5 separate regions of the Homo sapiens genome follow, and all the other regions are linked to region 2. The links come from fine-mapping of genetic effects on gene expression. A gene starts in region 2. Each other region holds a variant in brackets. All regions are shown on one strand. Distances are from middle to middle. Region 1 has its middle 4.2 kb from the start of SNORA40C. Region 2 holds the start of RPF2 (ribosome production factor 2 homolog). Region 3 overlaps RPF2 (ribosome production factor 2 homolog). Region 4 has its middle 52 kb from the start of SLC16A10. Region 5 overlaps RPF2 (ribosome production factor 2 homolog).

The links. PIP is the estimated chance that this variant, and not a neighbour inherited with it, causes the effect.
Region 1: its variant is the best candidate, but not a certain one, in a credible set for the expression of RPF2 in whole blood (INTERVAL, PIP 0.53).
Region 3: its variant is the best candidate, but not a certain one, in a credible set for the expression of RPF2 in T cells (TOPMed, PIP 0.74).
Region 4: its variant is the best candidate, but not a certain one, in a credible set for the expression of RPF2 in whole blood (TOPMed, PIP 0.65).
Region 5: its variant is the best candidate, but not a certain one, in a credible set for the expression of RPF2 in monocytes (BLUEPRINT, PIP 0.68).

Annotation. Positions count from the first base shown.
Region 1 is chr6:110,842,210-110,846,548 of GRCh38, reverse strand. It overlaps a transcript of AMD1 not described here. Among named protein-coding and RNA genes, the nearest start is that of SNORA40C, 4.2 kb to the left of the region's middle. The variant A/G (reference allele first, on the strand shown) is at 1,908.
Region 2 is chr6:110,980,200-110,984,538 of GRCh38, reverse strand. It overlaps RPF2 (ribosome production factor 2 homolog), which reads right to left and starts at 2,501. Exons shown (of 10, transcript NM_032194.3): 1 at 2,410-2,501. The coding sequence starts at 2,432.
Region 3 is chr6:111,023,483-111,027,767 of GRCh38, reverse strand. RPF2 (ribosome production factor 2 homolog) reads right to left here. Exons shown (of 10, transcript NM_032194.3): 9 at 3,441-3,585; 10 at 1-2,365. The coding sequence ends at 2,186. Among named protein-coding and RNA genes, the nearest start is that of RPF2, 44 kb to the right of the region's middle. The variant C/T (reference allele first, on the strand shown) is at 2,128.
Region 4 is chr6:111,032,924-111,037,262 of GRCh38, reverse strand. No RefSeq gene overlaps it. Among named protein-coding and RNA genes, the nearest start is that of SLC16A10, 52 kb to the left of the region's middle. The variant C/T (reference allele first, on the strand shown) is at 2,576.
Region 5 is chr6:111,017,993-111,022,331 of GRCh38, reverse strand. The region is part of intron 8 of RPF2 (ribosome production factor 2 homolog); the gene reads right to left. Among named protein-coding and RNA genes, the nearest start is that of RPF2, 38 kb to the right of the region's middle. The variant G/A (reference allele first, on the strand shown) is at 2,074.

The DNA.
Region 1 (4,339 bases), 140 kb after region 2:
TACATTTACATCATTTCATGTAAGTCTGAATTTAATCGTAAATGTTAATTTATACAATGGCATTTAATGTTTCCTCTGATAGTTTCTGTAACTTGTAGATGTCAGTCATATAAGAAATTAAAAGTGGCTTCATGTATATAATTCAGGATAGCTATTTATGCATTCTACTGTATATTCAATTAAAAGGAAAAAATTAATTTTAGATTTGTCTTCCTCATTAATGTTTTTTTCACCTGAGTTCCACATGAAAAGTGTTCTTTTCTGTTAAATGTGACAATCTTTAAATTCAGTTTTTGTTGTTGTTGTTGTTGTTTGAGACAGTCACACTGTCACCCAGGCTGGAGTGCAGTGGCGCGATCTCAGCTCACTGAAACCTCTGCCTCCTAGGTTCAAGTGATTCTCCTACCTCAGCCTCCCAAGTAGCTGGGATTACATGCGTGCACCACCACACCGGCTAATTTTTGTATTTTTAGTAGAGACGGGGTTTCACCATGTTGGCCAGGCTGGTCTCGAACATCTGACCTTGTGATCCACCCTCCTTGGCCTCCCAAAGTGCTGGGATTACAGGCGTGAGCCATCACGCCCGGCCTAAAATCTGTTTTTATTTGTATGCCTGTGAATATTTTCTTTGAAATGTTGCAGCAGGTTTCAAAACTGGTGTATTAGTCAAGGTTCTCTATAGGGACAGAACTAATAGGATAAATGTATATATGAATAGGAGTTTATTAAGGAGTATTGACTCACACGATCACAAGGCGAAGTCCCACAGTAGGCTGTCTGCAAGCTGAGGAGCAAAGAAGCCCATCCGAGTCCCAAAACCTGAAAAGTATGGAAGCCGACAGTGCAGCCTTCTGTCTCTGGCCTAAGGCCTGAGAACCCCTGGCAAATCGCTGGTATAAGTCCAAGAGCTTAAATAGAGAAAATTATTAGGAGTTTAATGACCCAACAGCAGGGTATTAAACTCAGTATGAGTCCCTTTTGAGACTAAGGCCTGGCCTGTATGCCCATGAAGCCAGCCCTGCATGAATTGCTAATATACTCATTTCACCATGTTTATGCTATGTTAGGTAAGCAACTCAATCTCCAAATTCCCTTTTTGATAGTCTGCTTACTATGTAATTGAGTCATGGGAGCAGATCTCTCATGAATGGTCTAGCACCATTCCCTTAGTGATAGGCAAGTTCTGGTTGTTTAAACGTCTGTGGCACCGGGCCAGGTGTGGTGGCTCATGTCTGTAATCCCAACACTTTGAGAAGCCAAGACAGGTGGGTCGGTTGAGGTCAGGAGTTGGAGACCAGCCTGGCCAACATGGTGAAACCCCGTCTCTACTAAAAATACAAAAATTAGCCGGGCGTGGTGGCTCACGCCTGTAATCTCAGCTACTTGGGAGGCTGAGGCAGGAGATCTCTTGAACCTGGGAGGCAGAAGTTGCAGTGAGCTGAGATCATGCCATTGCACTCCAGCCTGGGCGACAGAGTGAGACACCATATCAAAAAAAAAAAAAAAAAAAGGTCTGTGGCACCTCCCTCCTCACTGTCTCGTGCTTGCGCTTGCTTTCTCTCTCTCTCTCTCCATGTGATTTGCTGGCTTCCCATTTCACCTTCTGTGATGATTAGAAGCTTCGTGAGGCTCACCAGAAGCAGATGCAGGCACCACATTTCTTGTACTGTCTGCAGAACCTTGAGACAATGAAACATCTTTTCTTTATAAATTACCCAGCCTCAGGTATTTCTTTTTTCTTTCTTTCTTTCTTTCTTTTTTTTTTCTGAAATGCAGTTTTGCTCTTGTTGCCCAGGGTGGAGTGCAATGGTGTGATCTTGGCCTACTGCAACCTCTGCCTCCCGGGTTCAAGCCATTCTCCTGCCTCAGCCTCCTGAGTAGGTGGGATTACAGGCGCCTGCCACCAC[A/G]CCCGGCTAATTTTTTGTGTTTTTAGTAGAGATGGGGTTTCACCGTGTTAGCCACGATGGTCTCGATCTCCTGACCTCGTGATCCGCCCACCTCAGCCTCCCAAAGTGCTGGGATTACAGGCGTGAGCCACCACACCCAGCCCAGAAGAAGCCTTCATCTAGATATCATAAAAATACTAAACTTGGCCAGGCAAGGCGGCTCATGCCTATAATCCCAGCACTTTAGGAGGCCAAGGCGGGAGGATCACCTGAGGTCAGGAGTTTGAGACCAGCGAGACCAACATGACAAAACCCCGTCTCTACTAAAAATACAAAAACTAGCCAGGCATTGTGGCACATGCCTGTAATCCCAGCTACTCAGTCAAAAAAAAAAAAAGATTATAATTCTCTTTCTTTCTTTCTTTCTTTTTTTTTGAAGTAGGGACAGGATCTTGCTATGTTGGCTACACTGGTCTCAACCTCCTGGGCTCAAGTGATCCAACTTGGCCTCCTAAAGTGCTGGGATTACAGGCGTGAGCCACTGCACCTGGGATTCTTGTATAGGTGGATTACTGCTTATAGGAGGCAGGATAATGAATCCTTAAACATATCAATGTCCTAATCTTCAGAATCTGTAAATGTTAGGTTACATAGCTAAGGAGGATTTAGATTGCAGATGGAACTAAGAATGCTAATCAGCTGATTTTAGGGAGATTATCCTAGATTATCTGGGGAGGCCCAATATAATCCCAAAGGTCCTTAAAAGTGGAAAAGGGGCCGAGCTCCGTGGCTCACACCTGTAATCGCAACACTTTGGGAGGCCTAGGCAGGCAGATCGCTTGAGCTCATGAGTTTGAGACCAGCATGGCAACATGGCAAGACCCCACCGGTACAAAAAAAACTACAAAAATTAGCCAGGTGTGGTGGTGCACGCCTGTAGTCTGCTACTCAGGAAGCTGAGGTGGAAGGATCCACCTGAGCCCAGTAGGTGGAGGCTACAGTGAGCCAAGATGGCGCCACTGCACTCCAGCCTGGGTAATAGTGAGACCCTGTCTCAAAATAAATGAATAAATAAATATATTAAACATATTTATTTTATATTCTGTATCTAAAATTCTAGCATCTGAAGTTTTTGAGGCTGCTTCCAACTCATAGTACTTTATTTTCTTGTGTGTTTTTTGACTTTTTTTTTTTTTTCAAGATGGAGTTTCACTCTTATCGCCCAGGCTGGAGTGCAGTGGGGCCATCTCAGCTCACTACAACCTCTGCCTCCTCGGTTCTAGCGATTCTCCTGCCTCAGCCTCCCGTGTAGCTGGGATTATAGGCCTGCACCACTGCGCCCAGCTAATTTTTTTGTATTTTTAGTAGAGGTGGGTTTCTCCATGTTGGCCAGGCTAGTCTCCAACTTCTGACCTCAGGGGATCCGCCCGCCCAGGCCTTCCAAAGTGCTGCGATTTCAGGCGTGAACCACCATACCCCAGCCATTTTTTGACTTTTGACTAAAAGCATATGTTTTTTAGACTTTTTTTTGAGAGGGAGTCTCGCTTTGTCGCCCAGGCTGGAGTGCAGTGGCCCGATCTCGGCTCACTGCAACCTCTACCTCCCAGGTACAAGCAATTCTCCTGCCTCAGCCTCCCGAGTAGCTGGGACTACAGGTGCCCACCACCATGCCCGGCTAATTTTTGTATTTTTAGTAGAGACGGGGTTTCATGATATTGTCCAGGCTGGTCTCGAACTCCTGACCTTGTGATCCATCCCCCTCGGCCTCCCAAATTGCTGGGATTACAGGTGTGAACCACCACACCTGGTGGTTTTTTGACTTTTGACTAAAAGTTTTGGTTCAATATCTGTGGGAATTGTTTGAGGTCTAGGTTGAAGGGTGTTCTTCCAGAGAGGATTTTCTTTTCCTTATACTAGCTGTCTAGGGCACTACCAACCTAAGACCAACTTAATTTTCATCATAAAGTGTTTGGGACCACATAGACATTAAAAACTATGAAGGGTCTGAGATTCTACTCTGCCATGGTTAGCCTGCCACAGTTGCTTGAATGTTGGCAGAAAACGACTACTACTACTATTACTGCTAAGCTACTCTTTGGTCAGAGACAAATGACAGTTTATTACTCAAAGCAATAGCAGTAGTCAGAGTGTCAGCATTTGTGTTGGTTCTCCAAGTCCCAAACACAAAGTGGGGCAGGTGACATCTGTATATGCAGAGGGTTGTGTTATAGGAAAGGATCCCCAAATTTAGAGAACAAGAATGTTTTATAATGGACATTAAGCCTGCTGCCTTTTTCTCCCCAGCATAGATAGTCATTATCCCTGTCTTCCAATGCTGTAAGCATATCTGCCCCCTGGTCTGGAGGGATATACCATCTTTATCTTCCAAGCCTGCTTGCTATACAACTTGGTAAAAACATAGTGTGGAACAAAGGCAGTTAGTACTGCTGCTC
Region 2 (4,339 bases):
GATATTAGTAAAAGATATTTCCTTATTATTGTTAAATAAGTGTTTTGATAGCTTTTAAAAAAAAGCTTTCATTTTTGTATTCCCACCATTCTTTTATTACTGCTCTTTCCAATCTTTTTTTTAAGTAAAAAATAAAAGGCTCAAGTAAATACTGTTGCTGTTTTTTTTCTCTTACTCTTTCTTACTCTTCTTTTTTCTTCAAACTTTAAGTAGTCAAACTGTATCCTGTACCCTAATACAAAGAATTGAGCATCAACTGCTGATCAACCTGTGGACATTTACTAAACATAAGACTAACGACTGCTTATTTTTCTTTTAGGTTTAAGACCACAATGCCTGCCAGGAAGTATACACTGTTGCACTCCAACATCATTGCTGAGAATGCCAGTATTATTGCCAACAATGGGGAATAATAAGGCTGATGTTTACATGGAGTCACTCTATTAAGGCTTAATCTTCACCACAATCCTGAGAGTTACAATTCTTATTTATTTATTTATTTATTTTTTTGAGACAGAGTCTCGCTCTGTCGCCCAGGCTGGAGTGCAGTGGTGCGATCTCGGCTCACTGCAAGCTCCGTCTCCCAGGTTCACGCCATTCTCCTGCCTCAGCCTCCCGAGTAGCTGGGACTACAGGCGCCCGCCACGACGCCCGGCTAATTTTTTGTATTTTTAGTACAGACGAGGTTTCACCGTGTTAGCCAGGATGGTCTCGATCTCCTGACCTCGTGACCCACCCCCCCGCCTCAGCCTCCCAAAGTGCTGGGATTACAGGCGTGAGCCTCCACGCGCGAGTTACAATTCTTATCTTCACTTTACAGATGAGGCAATTGAACAGACAGGTAATGTGCCCAAGATCACACAGCAAGTAAACAGGCCAATTTTTAAAATGAGCTAGGGCTGGGAGGTGGCCCACAGCCTGTAATAAAAACACTCTAGGAGGCCAAGGTGGATGGATCACTGAGCCCAGAAGTTCGAGACCAGCCTGGGCAACAATGCAAAACCCTGTCTCTACAAAAAATACAAAAATTAGCTGTGGTGGTGTGCGCCTATAGTCCCAGCTACTCAGCAGGCTGAGGTAGGAGGACTGCTTGATCCCAGGGAGGTCGAGGCTGCAGTGAGCTGTGATGGGGCTACTGCACTCCAGCCTGGGTGACAGAGTGATACCCTGTCTCAAAAAAAAACAAATTTTTTAAAGCTAGATTTAAAAATTCGTCTAGACCAATTACCCTGTAAAATATGAAGGGAAAATAAATTCATTATTCTGACTTTATGATGTGACAGTAGGAGTGGCATGTTTTTACACACTTCTGTTCAAAAGAGGGGCTTCACCTCTGCTTCCTCTACAATGAGCACCTTGCTTTTCAGACAGTTCTCTGCCATCTACTGAAAGAATTCTTCCTCCCAAATAATTATGACCCTCCCTCGTCCAGTCCCATGGACACTTTGGGAAGAAAAAGAGACCATACATACACTTAAGTTTCCCATGTAGATTTTTAAAATACTCCTCCAGATATAATGTCACATATAAAGCTTCTGATCATTTACTGGTTGATAAAGATACAAATTATTCTATCTTTTGTATCTCATTAAACAGCAACAAATGCAAATAGCAATTAACATGTTTTATTAGCTGCCTGCTCCCAATTAACGTGTGAACTAGTCCCAATACCTAGTAAACTACTCTTTGTAGTCCAAACAGCTAGAGGCATAGCAGGTGTGCAAAATCTCTGAATGACTAAAACTGTCGTTTTGGATACATGTTAACTTAGGTAAATAGCAAGAAAATCACAGCAAGTAACAGCAGGGCTGTTTAGCCCAAATATTCTTGAACAAATTTAAAACAGGTATCATTCAAGGATAACTCAGAGGAGTGTACAAAGTTGGAAGGAAAAGAAAAAACTAATGAACATTTCTACGTGCTGCAGCAAAGGCTCTACATACATTCTCGAAACTAACCCTCACAGCTCTATGAAGTATGACTATGGTGAGCGCTATTTTACAGAATAAGCTAAGATTTAGAGATATTTAATGACCCAAAGTCACAAAGCTTTAAGTGGACGCGCCAGACTGTCACTCAGATCTGTCGGATTCCGAGGGCTGTGCTCCTAACCCCACTATACCATCTGTCTCATACTTCGGAAGTCAGACGTTTTTCAACTGGCTAGGATAAAAGCGGCCAACGCTTCAATCCCACATCCCTCCCATCCCACGGCTCCCACTTGAGAGCTTCCCCACTGTCTCCTGGCAAGCAGCTCGCGCTGAGGAGGACCCGGGCTGGTGATCGATCGGCCCCCACCCAGGTAATTAGAGGGGTAACCAGGAAGAGTGAGAGGCCGAGACAGTACCACCCTCATCACGGGACCCTTTCACCCCAACGCTCCCCGGGGCTGAGACCCAGCGCACTTACACTACTCGATCCAGAGTGTCCATCGCTACCGCTACCTGCAACTCTTAACCAGGGGGCATGCACGTGCCCTCGGCGATTACGTGCGCCGGAACAGGCGGAACCGGAAGCTGCGCGTAACGCCACTTCCGGGGACGGCCTCGTAGAGGGCGTCTAGAGGCGCTGGCGGCCATCTTGATTGGAATCGCGCCCTGTTGTCTTGGTTACGGATTTTTGCCCCGGCTCTTTCCTGGAGTTACAGGTGCGAGGTAATACTTTTAAGTAACACTGGCCGGGCGTGGTGGCTCACGCCTGTAATCCCAGGATTTTGGGAGGCCCAGGCGGGCGGATTACCTGATAACAGGAGTTCGAGACCAGCCTGGCCAACATGGCGAAACCCCGTCTCTACTAAAAATACAAAAATTAGCCGGGCGTGGTGGCGGGCGCCTCTAACCCCAGCTACTCGGGAGGCTGAGGCAGGGAGAACTGCTTGAACCCGGGAGGCGGAGGTTGCAGTGAGCGGAGATCGCGCCACTGCACTCCAGCCTGGGTGACAGAGCGAGACTTCGTCTCAAAAATAAAATAAAAATAAAATAAAATAACATAGACCCTCGCAGTTTGATGTACGCGCTAGTGTGCATACCTGGAGTCAGGTATTCAGAAACCAGATTTTATTCTTCAAGGAATCCCAGGATGCTAGAAAGGTTGATTGATTGCACGGTAGGTACTCACATAAGCACTAAAAACATTGATGTGAAAGGGGCACTATTGACAACTATGCGATCTGTGTGACAGAATTTATGACTACCACAGTTGCCTAGTACATAAAAGATGCGCAGAAAATGTACTGCTGTTCGTGATTTTTCCCCAGTTTTTAAGTTACCATATACTTCACATACCATAAAATGTACCCCTTTACAGTGTACAATTCAGTGATTTTTGGTGTATTCACAAAGATGTGCAAATATCACCACTAATTCCAGAATATTTAATCACCTCAAAAAGAACCCCCCTGACACACACACCCAGTAGCAGTCCATGCCCCACTTCCCCCTCCTGCCAGCCCTTGGCAACCAATAATCTACTTTATGTTCAATGGATTTGCCTATTCTGAACATATATAAATGGTTTCGTGCAACGTATGGCCTTTTGTGTTTGACTTCTTTCACTATCTTTTTGAGGTTCATACATGTAGCGTGGATCAGTACTTCCATTTTGTTAGGACTGAATAATATTCCTTTGTATGGATATACCACATTTTGTTTATCCATTTATCAACCTAGGTACTTTTTTTATTTTAGACATAGTCTTGCTCTGTCGCCAGGGCTGAAGTGCAGTGGTGCGATCTTGGCTTACTGCGCCGTCCACCTCCCGGGTTCAAGCAGTTCTGCCTCAGCCTCCCAAGTAGCTGGGATTACATGCACGCACCACCACACCTTGCTAACTTTTGTATTTTTTAGTAGAGACAGGGTTTCACCATGTTGGCCAGGCTGGTCTTGAACTTCTGAGCTCAGGTAATCCACCCGCCTTGGCCTCTCAAAGTGCTAGGAATACAGGCGTGAGCTACTGTACCCGGCAGCTTATGTACATTTGAATGGTTCCTATTTTTTGGCTATTATGGATTATGCTGCTTTGTGTTTTTTTGTTTTGTTTTGCTTTGCTTTGTTTTGTTTCTGAGACAGAGTCTCACTCTGTCACACAGGCTGGAGTGCAGTGATGCAATCTCAGGTTACTGCAACCTCCATCTCCTGGGTTCAAGTGATTCTAGTGCTTCAGCCTCTCGAGTAGCTGGGACCACAAGCGCGTGCCACCACACCCAGCTGCTTTGAATATTAGTGTACAAATTTTTGTGTGGACATACATTTTCAATTCTCTAGGAGAAAAATTGCTGGGTCATATGCTGACTCTTAAGTGTAACATTTTGAGGCACTGGTAAACTGTTTTCCAAAGCACC
Region 3 (4,285 bases), 43 kb before region 2:
CAATACTTATTAGATCCTCTACCATCAGACACAGAAATTACCTAGAAAACAGAAATGTATTGCCAAATCTCAAACAAGAGGGCTGATTAAAACAAACAAAAACACCCTTAAGACGTCTCACATACAGAAATCATGGCCATCTTTGGGTTAAGATTGGCTGATTTTCCAGTAGTGCTGGGGTAGGTCTTCCTGATAGAGGGGTCCAGGCATGGCAGGGTCCCGTAAGCGGCTGGTGAGGAGGACCCACTGCTTTGCCTCCTACCAGTGATGAGCGAGGCTTTGGGGAAGGACTATGCGTCCATCACTCCTGATGTTCTTTTCATGGCTCCCCTTCTCAGCTATTGTCCATCTACCTCCAGATGGCAGCAAACGACTTATCTGAGCCCCTTCTTCTCATTTAGATATAAAGTGCAAATGTCTGATTCAGGTACGAGACTGTATGGTCTTTGGTTAAACGTATAATCAAACAAAAAGTATAAATGATACCAGCTCCTTCATTTTTCTGGCAAGAGGAGAGTAACAGCTATCCGGAGAGGACTAGGGAAAGCTAAGGAATGGATTCAAAAGAGAAGGGAAAGGGTAGAAGGTAAAGCTGAGGCTCGAACTTTTGCTTAGTGCCAGCATTGTTGATCTGTAGCTGAGCAAGCTTACATAAAGGCATGTATACACAGGCACGGAGCTCTCTAACATGGAATTGAAGTGAAACCCTGTCTCTACAAAAAATCAGCCAGGCGTGGTGGTGGGTGCCTGTAATCCCAGCTACTCGGGAGGCTGAGGCAGAAGAATGCTTGAACCTGGGAGGTGGAGGTTGCAGTGAACTGAAATCGCGCCACTGCACTCCAGCCTGAGCGACAGAGCGAGACTCTGTCTCAAAAAACAACAAAAAAGAAAGCACTGGTACTTCATGTAACAAATTATGATTTGCGTATGTCTGTACCTTTACAACATTACTGGCACTTGTATAAAGGAGATTCCTTGTCAAGGACTGAATCAAGGAACTTAACACCCTATTCCAGAAAAACAAGTATGCAATACTAGTAGAAGGAAGAAGAAAGCTTCTGTTTTCCTAGGCACAAGGCCTGTCTTCAAGAAACTTTCAAAACAAGTAGTTAGGCTTTGGCTGGCTTCTACACCATCTGCAAACGCCCAGGGCCTTCATGCAACCTTTAGCTACCTAGGGCTACCCAGTACCCTAAAGTGCCCTGCACCTTAAAACTCACCTGTTTTCTCCTTTTTCATTTCTGCCCCTATCAAAACTTCTTTTCTGCCAGGTGCAGTGGACCAACATCTGTAGTTCCGGCTGCTCAGGAAGGTGAAGTGGGAGGATCACTTGAGCCCAGGAATTTGAGTCCAGCCTGGGCAACACAGCAAGACCTCATTGCTTTAAAAAAAAAAAGTAGGGCTCAGTGGCTCATGCCTGTAATCCCAGCTACGTAAGAGGCTCAGGCAGGAGGATTACTTGAGCCCAGGAGTTCAGGGCTGCAGTGAGCTGTGATTGTGCCACTGCACTCCACCCTAGGTGACAGAACAAGACCCCATCTCTTAAAAACAAACCAACCAAAAAACACAGGTTTCGTCTCAGAGAAGCGGGGTGGGCTCTACTTAGTAGTAGAGTCTCTTAAAACAATCAACAGTAGTGTAATTTATCAATAATCAGATAGCAGACATCCCTCTCAGAGATCTATATATTTTCAGCCACAAAGCTTAAAATCTCAAATGTCAACGAGTAGGATTTCAGGCAAAATAAAAGTAGAAAATAAAAATCAGAATGTAGATCCATGTTGGGAGAGGAGGTTAACTTTCCAGGTAATTCATACTGAGATTGTTTACACAGCTCCTGCGGGTCCGGCTTTCTGTGGCTTTCTTTAGCTAAGGCCAGAAATTCAAAAAAATCCCAATGGTTATGGAGATCCCTCCTCACCCATCCATCCACCCAATGAGAAAGAAGAATTTGTGGAGGGCAGGGGATATCACAAGAGAAAATGGCACACCAGGGTGTAATGTCTCAAATAAAAGGCTTACTTTACACTTAATACTAGTATATTACTGTTCATAATAATATATCGTAAAATTATCATGTTATAAAAATATATAATAAGATCTTATAAGAAACTCTGAATGGATTGA[C/T]GCTTGATAATTCTCTTAAGTAGAACACAATGAAACAGTAGTGGCTGGCTAAGTTCCATCAATTTTTTTTAATTCTTTTTGACTTTTTCTCGTGGTCTTCTGTTATCCTTTCTGCAGGTCGCTTCTTCAACCCCTTCATTTTCCTGGTTTGTAGTTTGCTTAGGTCTTGCTTCTGCATATGAATCCTTCCATAAGTTGTACCAAAAGTATCATGGGAAATATTTTTCTTCTTCTTTGGCTACGATAAAAGAATATGTATATATTTAATGGCCTTCTACTATAATGAGCCAGTAAAAATCTAGTCTGTAACAACTATCTTAGTAGCAATTTCCATTAGTGCCTGCCCCTTCAGTGACACAGTATATAGCCCTATACACTTTTCTTCTCAAACTTAAGTGTGCATACAAATCACTTGGGATCTTGCTAAAATACAGATCCTAATTCAGTATGTCTAGGGTAGGGCCTGATATTCTGCACAATTCCCAGGTAAACTGTCAGGCCACACTTTGAAAAACAAAACTATAAACTACACTAACCACTGTCACACATCAAGAAAATAGCCTGTGTTTAGCTTAAGAAGTTGTGACTATTGTTTCAATTTCTATTGGCATTTTAGAGATTACATTTCTTCTTGTCTTTTAAAACTACTTAAAAAGTCAAAACACATTTTATGCACATATGGTTTATATACCCTGTACTCTAAATCCTTAGCCTTTACAGTGTACCAAACAACTCTCTTTCTTTTGCTGAAAACAACAGTCTTGACTATCAGAAGGCACTTAGCCAAACCTCATGTCTGGGTTTTGCAACTCTTTTTTTATTATCCCTTATTGTTGGCTTATTTGGTTCTCTCTCCTTTTCCTGGCTCTGTGAGTCCTAGTTTAATCTATTGTATTGATCTCTTTATATATGTCCTTGTCTTTTTTTTTTTTTTTTGGCTCACTCTGTCACCCACGCTGGAGTGCAATGGCGTGATCTCTGCTCACTGCAAGCTCCACCTCCCCGGTTCACGCCATTCTCCTGCCTCAGCCTCCCAAGTAGCTGGGACTACAGGCGCCCGCTACCACGCCCAGCTAATTTTTTGTATTTTTCATAGAGACGGGGTTTCACTGTATTAGCCAGGATGGTCTCGATCTCCTGACCTTGTGATCCACCCACTTCGGCCTCCCAAAGTGCTGGGATTACAGGCGTGAGCCACCGCGCCTGGCCTGTCCTTGTCTTTTAATATAATATGCCACAAATTCTTTTTGGAAAGAAAAAGGATTAAAGTAGAAAATACAAATAAATGTGGTACCAAGCTCTAAGTTATATACCTTGAGAGCTTTTGGCATTTTCATAGATAATTTATAAAGGTCATCCGATGCCAGGTGTGTCCTCCTCAGAACCAGATCCAATGAGGGTCCCATCTCTTCCAATTCAATCCGTGGTGTTCTGCAACCAGATTTCTTCAACAGCAACCTTTAGGAAATAGGTAAAAAGAAATGTTGCTTTGACTTTCATAAAAGTCCTCTCCACCAAATATTTTTTGTTCAGGGGATTTACAATTCCATTAAATGATATAAAATGTTTAGAAAGACTTACTTAAATACTTAATACTATTCAAGCCAAGTATATCCTTTGGTTCACATCTTCTTTTATAAATTTTTTTTTTTTTGAGACGGAGTCTCGCTCTGTCCCCAGGCTGGAGTGCAGTGGCGCGATCTTGGCTCACTGTAAGCTCCACCTCCCAGGTTCACGCCATTCTCCTGCCTCAGCCTCCCGAGTAGCTGGGACTACAGGCACCCGCCACCACACCTGGCTAATTTTTTTGTATTTTTAGTAGAGATGGGGTTTCACCGTGTTAGCCAGGATGGTCTCGCTCTCCTGACCTCATGATCCTCCTGCCTCGGCCTCCCAAAGTACTGGGATTACAGGCATGAGCCACCATGCCCGGCTTTTCTTTATAAGTCTTTTATCCCTTTTTGAGCTAAAGGGTCACACAAATATCAAATTAAAAATTTTTTTTTTCTCTTTGAGGTCAAGGGCAGTTTGCTTATTTTTAAAAATCAGAAATAAAATTATACAATATTATTGAGAAACAGCAAGTGAGATACAAAATTATTCTCAGAAATGAAATAAAATCCTTTGATTTGACTTCTTCATCTTACTCATAGATTTA
Region 4 (4,339 bases), 53 kb before region 2:
TTTTAATCAGCCTGAATGTTCTACTTCTGTGACAGTGCAGCTTAAATTTAGGGGGACCTTTCAGCAGCAGGCTTACATGGATGTCTGACACTGGGTTTGCCTCCAGGGGCATTTCCCAACTGTAGAACAGTCTCCTTTATCCTAACTATGTGTATATTTCTCCCCCAGGTTCTGAACTTTTCTTTGTGTCTTTTTTTTGTCTTCATGAAAGTGGAAGAACACCGTTTAAAGAGACAAAGGTCAATAGCAGCCCTGAGGCTTGTCAGTAAAGATCTGCTTTCTGGATGCCATGGATGTATTCATCATTCATCAATATCCTTTGGGTGTAGTTGTTTAAATTGCTATGAATTGGCCTGGGTGCTGATTAGTTACATCATTTCTCCATGTGATTCACATGAATACTGTGAGACACTTAAGACATCTTGCTGAGAATCCACTAGATTAGGAATTAGAAGACTTGAGTTCTAGGCCCAGATTTACCTCTTTAAGTTGTGTAACGTTGGACAAGTTTACTTAATCCAAGCCTCTGCTTTCTCGACTGGAAATTGTATAAAATACCACCTGCACTATTCAGTTTATGGAATATTTTAAATATCAACTGAAAATACCATGTGAAAGCACTTTCAAAAAAAGACTGCGCTTATCAGCCGGGTATGGTGGCTCACGCCTATAATCCCAGCACTTAGGGAGGCCAAGGTGGGCGGATCATGAGGTCAGGAGTTCGAGATCAGCCTGGCCAACATGGCGAAACCCTGCCTCTACTAAAAATACAAAAATTACCCCAGTGTGGTGGCGGGCGCCTGTAATCCCAGCTACTTGGGAGGCTGAGGCAGGAGAATTGCTTGAACCTGGGAGGCGGAGGTTGCAGTGAGCCGAGATCATGCCACTGCACTCTAGCCTGGGTGACACAGCAAGACTCCATCTCAAAAAAAAAAAAAGAAAAAAGAAAAAAAGATTGTGCTTATCATATTATTTATAATAATATCAACAGGAAATGCCATTAATGCCCAACAATAGAATGACTAAAATAAATAACATATCCACGTAATCAAATATTACAGAGCCATCAAAAATAGTGTTTAAAAAATAACTAATGACACAAGAAACTGCTTACATATAACATTGATTTCAAAGAGCAGGGCAGGCCAGGCACAATGGCTCACACCTGTAATCCCAGCACTTTGGGAAGCTGAGGCGGGAGGATTGCTTGAGCCCAGGAGTTCAAGATCAGCCTGGGCAACATGGCAAGACCTCTGTTGTAAAAAATTAGCTGGGCGGTGGCACATGCCTGCAGTCCGAGCTACTAGGAATGCTGAGGTGGGAGGATCACCTAAGCCTGGGAGGTTGAGGCTGCAGTGTGCTGTGATCATGCCACTGTACTCCAGCCAGGGAGAGTGAGAATCTGTCTTAAAAAAAATAAAGGGCAGAGCACCTAGTAAACCCTTGGGCAAGGGCCAATGATGGGAGCAGGTACAAGGGGACTTCTGTCGGTCTTTACAATATTTCTATTTCTTTTTCTTTTCCCACTTAGATAAAGGGGGTACATGTACAGTTTTGTTACCTGGGTATGTTGCATGATGCTGAAGTTTGGGGTATGAGTGATCCCATTACCTAGGTATTGAGCACAGTACCCAATAGTTTCTGAACCCTTGGCCTCCTTTCTCCCTCCCCGCTAGTAGTCGGTCCCCAGTATCTACTGTTGCCATCTTTATGTCCATGAGTACCAATTGTTTAGCTCCTACTTACAAGTGTGGTATTTGGTTTTCTGTTCCTTTACGTTAATTCACTTAGGATATTATTTCTATTTCTTGATCTGGATAATTATGCAAGTGTGTTCACTTGGTAAAAATTCGTCATGTTTTGCTCTTATGAACACTTCCATACATGTAGGTTTTAGCTATATATGTATTTAAAAATAAAAAAGCAGAACTCAAAATAAGACCACAGTTTTATTTTATGTATTTTGTTGATTGATTTATTGACTGATTGTGACAGAGTCTCATTCTCTGTTGCCCAGGATAGAATGCAGTGGCATGATCTAGACTCACTGCAACTTTTGCCTCCAGGGTTCAGGCTATTCTCCTGGCTCAGCCTCCTGAGTAGCTGGGACTACAGGTGCGTGTCACCATTCCTGGCTAATTTTTGTATTTTTAGTAGAGATGGGGTTTTGCCATGTTGGCCAGGCTGGTCTCAAACTCCTGACCTCAAGTGATCCGCCCGCCTCGGCCTCCCAAAGCGCTGGGATTATAGGCGTGAGGCACCGTGCCCAACCCCATAGTTTTATTTTTAAATTTGGGGTTTTTTAAAAGATATATATTTTAAATATTTTTTAGAGACAGTGTCTTACTCTATCAATCACCGAGGCTGGAGTGCAGTGGCAAAACCACAGCTCACTGCAGTCTCAGACTCATGGGCTGAAATGATCCTCCTGCCTCAGTCTCCAGAGTAGCCAGGACTATAGGCATGCACCACTATGCCTGGCTAAGTTTTTAAATTGTTTGTAGAGACAGGATCTTGATATGTTGCCCAGGCTAGTCTTGAACTTCTGGCCACAAGCAATACTCCTGAAATTATA[C/T]GTGTGAGCCACCGTGCCTGGTCCTATTTTTATTTTTTTAGAGACAAGGTCTTGCTATGTTACTCAGGCTGGAGTACAGTGGCTATTCACAGGCATGATTATAGCATACTAAGGCCACCTGGGCTTAAGGAACTCTCCTGCTTCAGTCTCCTGAGTAGCTGGCGAAATCCCCTTTGCAAAAATTATAACTGAGGAAATTATGACAGTGAAAGAAATCAGACCTAAACAACTCCATCTTGCTTCTAACCTTTAAGCTGTCCTTGTTCATCCCTGGGCATAGGCTGAACCAACTTTGGGAAGGAATTCAGTTCATGGTTTGACTCTAGAAACAAAATTGGTAATAGCTCTTTCCTGAAACGACCCCCTTCTTGCCTGGGGACCAGTCTGCCTTCGCAGGACTAACAAATTAGCTACAAGGCTAGAAATTACAGTTTAGGGGTCATGCAGCCTCTGGCTCCAAGAGTCTGAACCTTCCCAAATTGCTCCTGGGGATAATATCACCATTGTGAAACCTACGATCAGAGCTATTGTGCAGACCCTGCACTCGATGGATCAGCTGACACCACCCAGACGGCAATCTGGCTCAACCAGTTCTGCCATCCCACCCAGGAACAGAAGAGAGCAAGAAAAATTCACTTCCGCCCCCTGTGAGTCCATCTCCAACCTGACCAATCAGCACTCCCCACTTCCCAAGCCCCTACCCGCAAAATTATCTTTGAAAACTCTGATCCCCAAATGCTCAGGGAGACTGATTTGGGTAATAATAAAACTCTGGTTTCCCACATAGCCGGCTCTGCGTGAATTACTCTTTGTCCATTGCAATTCCCCTGTCTTGGTAAATCGACTCTGTCTAGGCAGCCGGTAAAGTGAACCCTTTGGGCACTTAACTGGGACTACATGCTCACCACCACACCCAGCTTAAAACTATGCATTTTTTTCAGTGGTAAGAAATACAGCAAAATGTTAATTACCTGGTATTACCTGAGATTACAGATGACTTTTATTTTCATCTTTGCAACTTTCCCTTTGATTATCAGAAAAAAAGTTCGTTTTTTTTTTTTAAATCAGAAAAATATTCCTTGTATTTGAAAGAAAATGCTTGGCCTGGTGTGGTGGCTCACCCCTGTAATCCCAGCACTTTGTGAGACCGAGTCGGGCAGATCAACTGAGGTCAGGAGTTCCAGACCAGCCTGGCCAACATAGCAAAAACCCATCTCTACTAAAAATACAAAAATTAGCCAGGCATGGTGGTGGGCGCCTGTAATCCCAGCCACTCAGAAGGCTGAGGCAGGAGAATCACTTGAACCTGGGAGGCGGAGGTTGCAGTGAGCCAAGATCCGTGCCACTGCACTCCAGCCTGGGGTGACAGAGCAAGACTTGTCTCAAAAAAAAAAAAAAGAAAAAAGAAAAAGAAAAACAAAAAGGAAAGAAAGAAAATGCTTTCTAAATTGTAAACATATACAGTGTCAGGTGTTATTCCCAATGCCTGAAACATAATAATGCTTGATAAATGTGGAGTGATTGGTTATTGTCCTGTGAAAGTTGAACCATAAGAATTGGGTCATTCTTGTCAGATCCAACTAAAACAGAGTCAAGAAGCTAGGAGGAAAAACATTCAGGGTACCAAAGCATTGCTCCAAGAATAGACTTTCTTTGCAAGCCTGGCTGCTGAAGCTGCTTGTTGTAAGCTGAAACCAGTTTTATCTATAGCTTCTGAGATAACTTGCTACAATTCTAGGACTAATTTTGCCCTCTGCTGTTGCT
Region 5 (4,339 bases), 38 kb before region 2:
AAATATTATTTGTCTATTTCTTGAGGAAGAGTGACATTACCACTACTGTTCAAATTGTAATTTCCTCATTTTTCTCCCTCTCATACACTTCTCTGGCTGAAAGTCTGTTTTCATTAAGTAAACTCCTCAATTAGAATGTTATGTTTGCTTTTCAAAGTATGCTACCACTTTGTTTTGCATATTTCCCCCCATAAGGCCTAACCATTGTGCAAAGGCACATGTGGCATTACTAACGATTTTGTTTCATATTAATGGCTCTGACTCCATAGTGAATAAAATTTCCCAACGGATATAAATAGTCACTCACATACAAGGAATAATTACTATAGGATGTATAGGAACAGTGGTCAATAACACTATGATTTATTCACCCAAAAGATCATGTTAAAGGTTATATTAATATAATTTCCTGTTTAGAGTTCCTTTCATCCAAAAAGCTCAAAACCATTTTATAAACCTCATTTATCTTCACAAATAAAGTGTGTGAATATTAAATATTACCATTTTCAAATTGCATAAGGGCTAATTTGCAGTAAGAGCGAGGGAAAGGGTTCCACAGTATAGCTAGCCCAAAGAATGCCTGGGGAGCCAAGTTAAGTCAGACATACTTTCTGGTATATGCCCATCTATGAGTACCCCTTTACTCTTATAAAGCAGTACTGTCAATCTTAGGGGGACCTCAGAATTATCTAAATGGTATTGCTATAGTTTACAGAGGAAGAAACAAAGACCCTGAGAAGTGGTGACCTGCCCATGTCACGTGGCTGAGCCCAGCTCAGAGCCAGGTCAGTAGGCTCAGAGGTGATGCTGAATCCCTGGACCACCCCTTCCTCCCATCCTCAATGCTCCCCAAGTGTGGCACAGCCTCTGGAAGCTAAGCTGATCCACATGTTTAGTGATTCTTTCAAGTAGCAGCTCACTCTCAATCACAGTGTCCATTTTTTATTTCAAATTAATAGCTAACAAGTATTACAAGGCACATATGGAACATCTAGTGATCAAAATTACATACTAGGGTCTCTGATTTTAAAATTTCAAACTTTTTTTCATTATGAAAGATGTCGTGCTAGTGTAAAGGTGATTCTAGCAATCAGATTTTTGGTGGATCTATGTATTATAGTTACACTGCTAGTTTTTTATTTTTGTTTTTATTTTTATTTTTTTGAGACAGAGTCTTGCTCTGTCACCAGGCCGGAGTGCTGTGGCACAATCTAGGCTCGCTGCAATCTCCGACTCCGTGGTTCAAGCAATTCTCCTGCCTTGGCCCCCTGAATAGCTGGGATTACAGGCATGCGCCACCATGTCCAGCTAATTTTTTGTATTTTTAGTATAGATGATGTTTCACCGTGTTAGCCAGGATGGTCTCGATCTCCTGACCTCGTGATCTGCCCACCTCAGTCTCCCAAAGGGCTGCTGGGATTACAGGGATGAGCCACCGTGCCCGGCCTTACTGCTAGTTTATTCTTTTTTTTCTCTTTTTTTGAAATGGAGTCTCGCTGTCACCCAGGCTGGAGTGCAGTGGTGCGATCTTGGCTCACTGCAACCTCTGCCTCCCGGGTTCTCCTGCATCAGCCTCCTGAGTAGCTGGGATTACAGGTGCACACCATGTTGCCCGGCTAATTTTTATATTTTTAGTAGAGACGGGGTTTCACCATGTTGGCCAGGCTGGTCTCAAACTCCTGACCTCAGGTGATCCACCCATCTTGGCCTCCCAAAGTACTGGATTACAGGCATGAGCCACCACGCTGGGCCAGTTTATTCTTGCTCTAAAGTCTGACTTGATAATTCTCTATTTTGTTTTATTTTCTCTGTATCTTTCTTTACAAATAAACCCTTTTCACTAAATACAAGTGAATACTTTCTGCGAAACCGTTCAACACAGAAGAGTTTTAGGCTACTGTTACCACTCATTTCTTACTGTCAATGATTTTTTACCGTTATATTTTTATCTCCCTTGTATCCCCTCTATGTTTAACACAGAGGGCATACATACCCACCCGAGGCAGGAGAATCGCTTGAATGCGGGAGGCAGAGGTTGCAGTGAGCTGAGATGATGCCACTGTACTCCAGCCT[G/A]GGCAACAGCAAGATCCTGCCTCAAAAAAAGAAGTGTTCCAGGTCAGGCGCGGTGGCTCATGCCTGTAATCTCAGCACTTTGAGAGGCCAAGGCAGGTAGATCACGAGGTCAGGAGATTGAGACCATCCTGACTAACATGGTGAAACCCTGTCTCTACTAAAAATACAAAAATAAAATTAGCCGGGCGTGGTGGCGGGTGCCAGTAGTTCCAGCTACTTGGGAGGCTGAGGCAGGAGAATGGCATGAACCCGGGAGGCAGAGGCTGAAGTGAGCTGAGATTGCGTCACTGCACTCCAGCCTGGGCAACATAGCGAGACTCCGTCTCAAAAAAAAAACAAAAGAAAGAAAAGAAAGGTGTTCCAGATTTCTGGTTTTTTTCAGAGTTTGAAATACTTGCATACGTATAATGAGATATCTTGGGGATGAGATCCAAGTCTAAACACAAAATCCATTTATGTTTCATATACAGTTTATATACATAGCCTGAAGGTAATTTTATACAATTTTTATTTTATTTTATTACTTTATGTCTGAGATGGAGTTTCACTCTTGTTGCCCAGGCTGGAGTGCTCGGCTCACTGCAACCTCTGTCTCCCGGGTTCAAGCAATTCTCCAGCCTCAGCCTCCCGAGTAGCTAGGATTACAGGCGCCTACCACCATGCCTGACCAATTTTTGTATTTTTAGTAGCGACGGTGTTATGCCATGTTGGCCAGGCTGGTCTGGAACTACTGACCTCAGGTGATCCACCCGCCTCAGCCTCCCATGTGCTAGGATTACAGGTGTCCAGCCAACATAAGTTTAATTTTGTTTTGTTTTTTTCAGACAGTCTCACTCTGCCACCTAGGCTGGAGTGCAGTGGCACAATCTCAGCTCATTGCAACCTCTGCCTCCCAAGCTGAAGCAATTCTTGTGCCATAGCCGCCTGAGTAGCCGGGATTATAGGCGTGTGGCCCAGGCTCAAGCAATTCTCATGCCACAGCCTCCCAAGTAGCTGGGATTACAGGCGTGCGCCACCATACCCAGCTAATTTTTGTATTTTTTAATAGAGACAGGGTTTCTCCATGTTGGCCAGGCTGGTCTTGAACTCCTCAAGTGATCCGCCCACTCTCTGTAACCTCTGCGTCCTGGGCTCAATTGTCCTGCCTCAGCCTCCTAAGTAGCATGGAGGCCAGTGCCACCATGTCCAGCTAATTTTTGTATTTTTAGTAGAGACAGGTTTCGCTGTGTTGGCCAGGCTGGTCTTGAACTCCTGGCCTCGAGCAATCCACCCACCTCGGCCTCCCAAAGTTCTGGGATTACAGGCATGAGCCACCATGTCCGTCCTGAGTACTTTTTTATATTAGTGATTTTTCATCTTTTATTTCTTGTTCTCTAAATAACAGTCATCTACTGTATAGTATAATACATACTTAGAAGCTCCCAAATCACATATGGAAACTCAAACAGGAGACTTAAGGGGCTTTCGATCTTAACCAGCTAAAAATTACTATAAAGTCTCTAATTACATCTTATGATCATTGGGTATTTTACTGCATTTTGCCTCATTTATTTTTAGTGAGAGGAAAACAGAAAAACAGAAGCGGTGGTATTAATTATATGGAGAAAAAGAACTAAATGTCTCTGATTTAATACAGTTGAGCCCAAGATGGAAATTATCAGCTAAGAGGTGAATATTTAAGTTTCATTTGGACATTCATAGGACATAAAGCTGGTCAGTCATGTATTTTCATTGTGAAGAAAACAAAATAAAAACGATGTACAAAATGCTAGATACAAATGGTTGGACAAACAACACTACTGTACAGAAGACACTGTCAACACCAAGCTGTCAGCTCTCAGGCTGCAACACCAGCCACACCATAGCTCAAAATGTACAGCAAAGTCTAAACTCAATGTACAGAGAAAGGCAATTTGTGGGAGTCAGTGTATTCTTTAGGAAACTGTGGGCTCTGTCAGCCAGTACCAACGCCTTAAAAAAGAGAAGTCACACACTTATCTCAAGAACCACAATTGCCCTCTCCCTCTCCCTCTCCCTCTCCCTCCCCCTCCCCCTCCCCGGTCTCCCCCTGATGCCGAGCCGAAGCTGGACTGTACTGCTGCCATCTCCGCTCACTGCAACCTCCCTGCCTGATTCTCCTGCCTCAGCCTGCCGAGTGCCTGCGACTGCAGGCGCGCGCCGCCACGCCTGACTGGTTTTCGTATTTTTTTGGTGGGGACGGGGTTTCACTGTGTTGGCCAGGCTGGTCTCCAGCTCCTAACCGCGA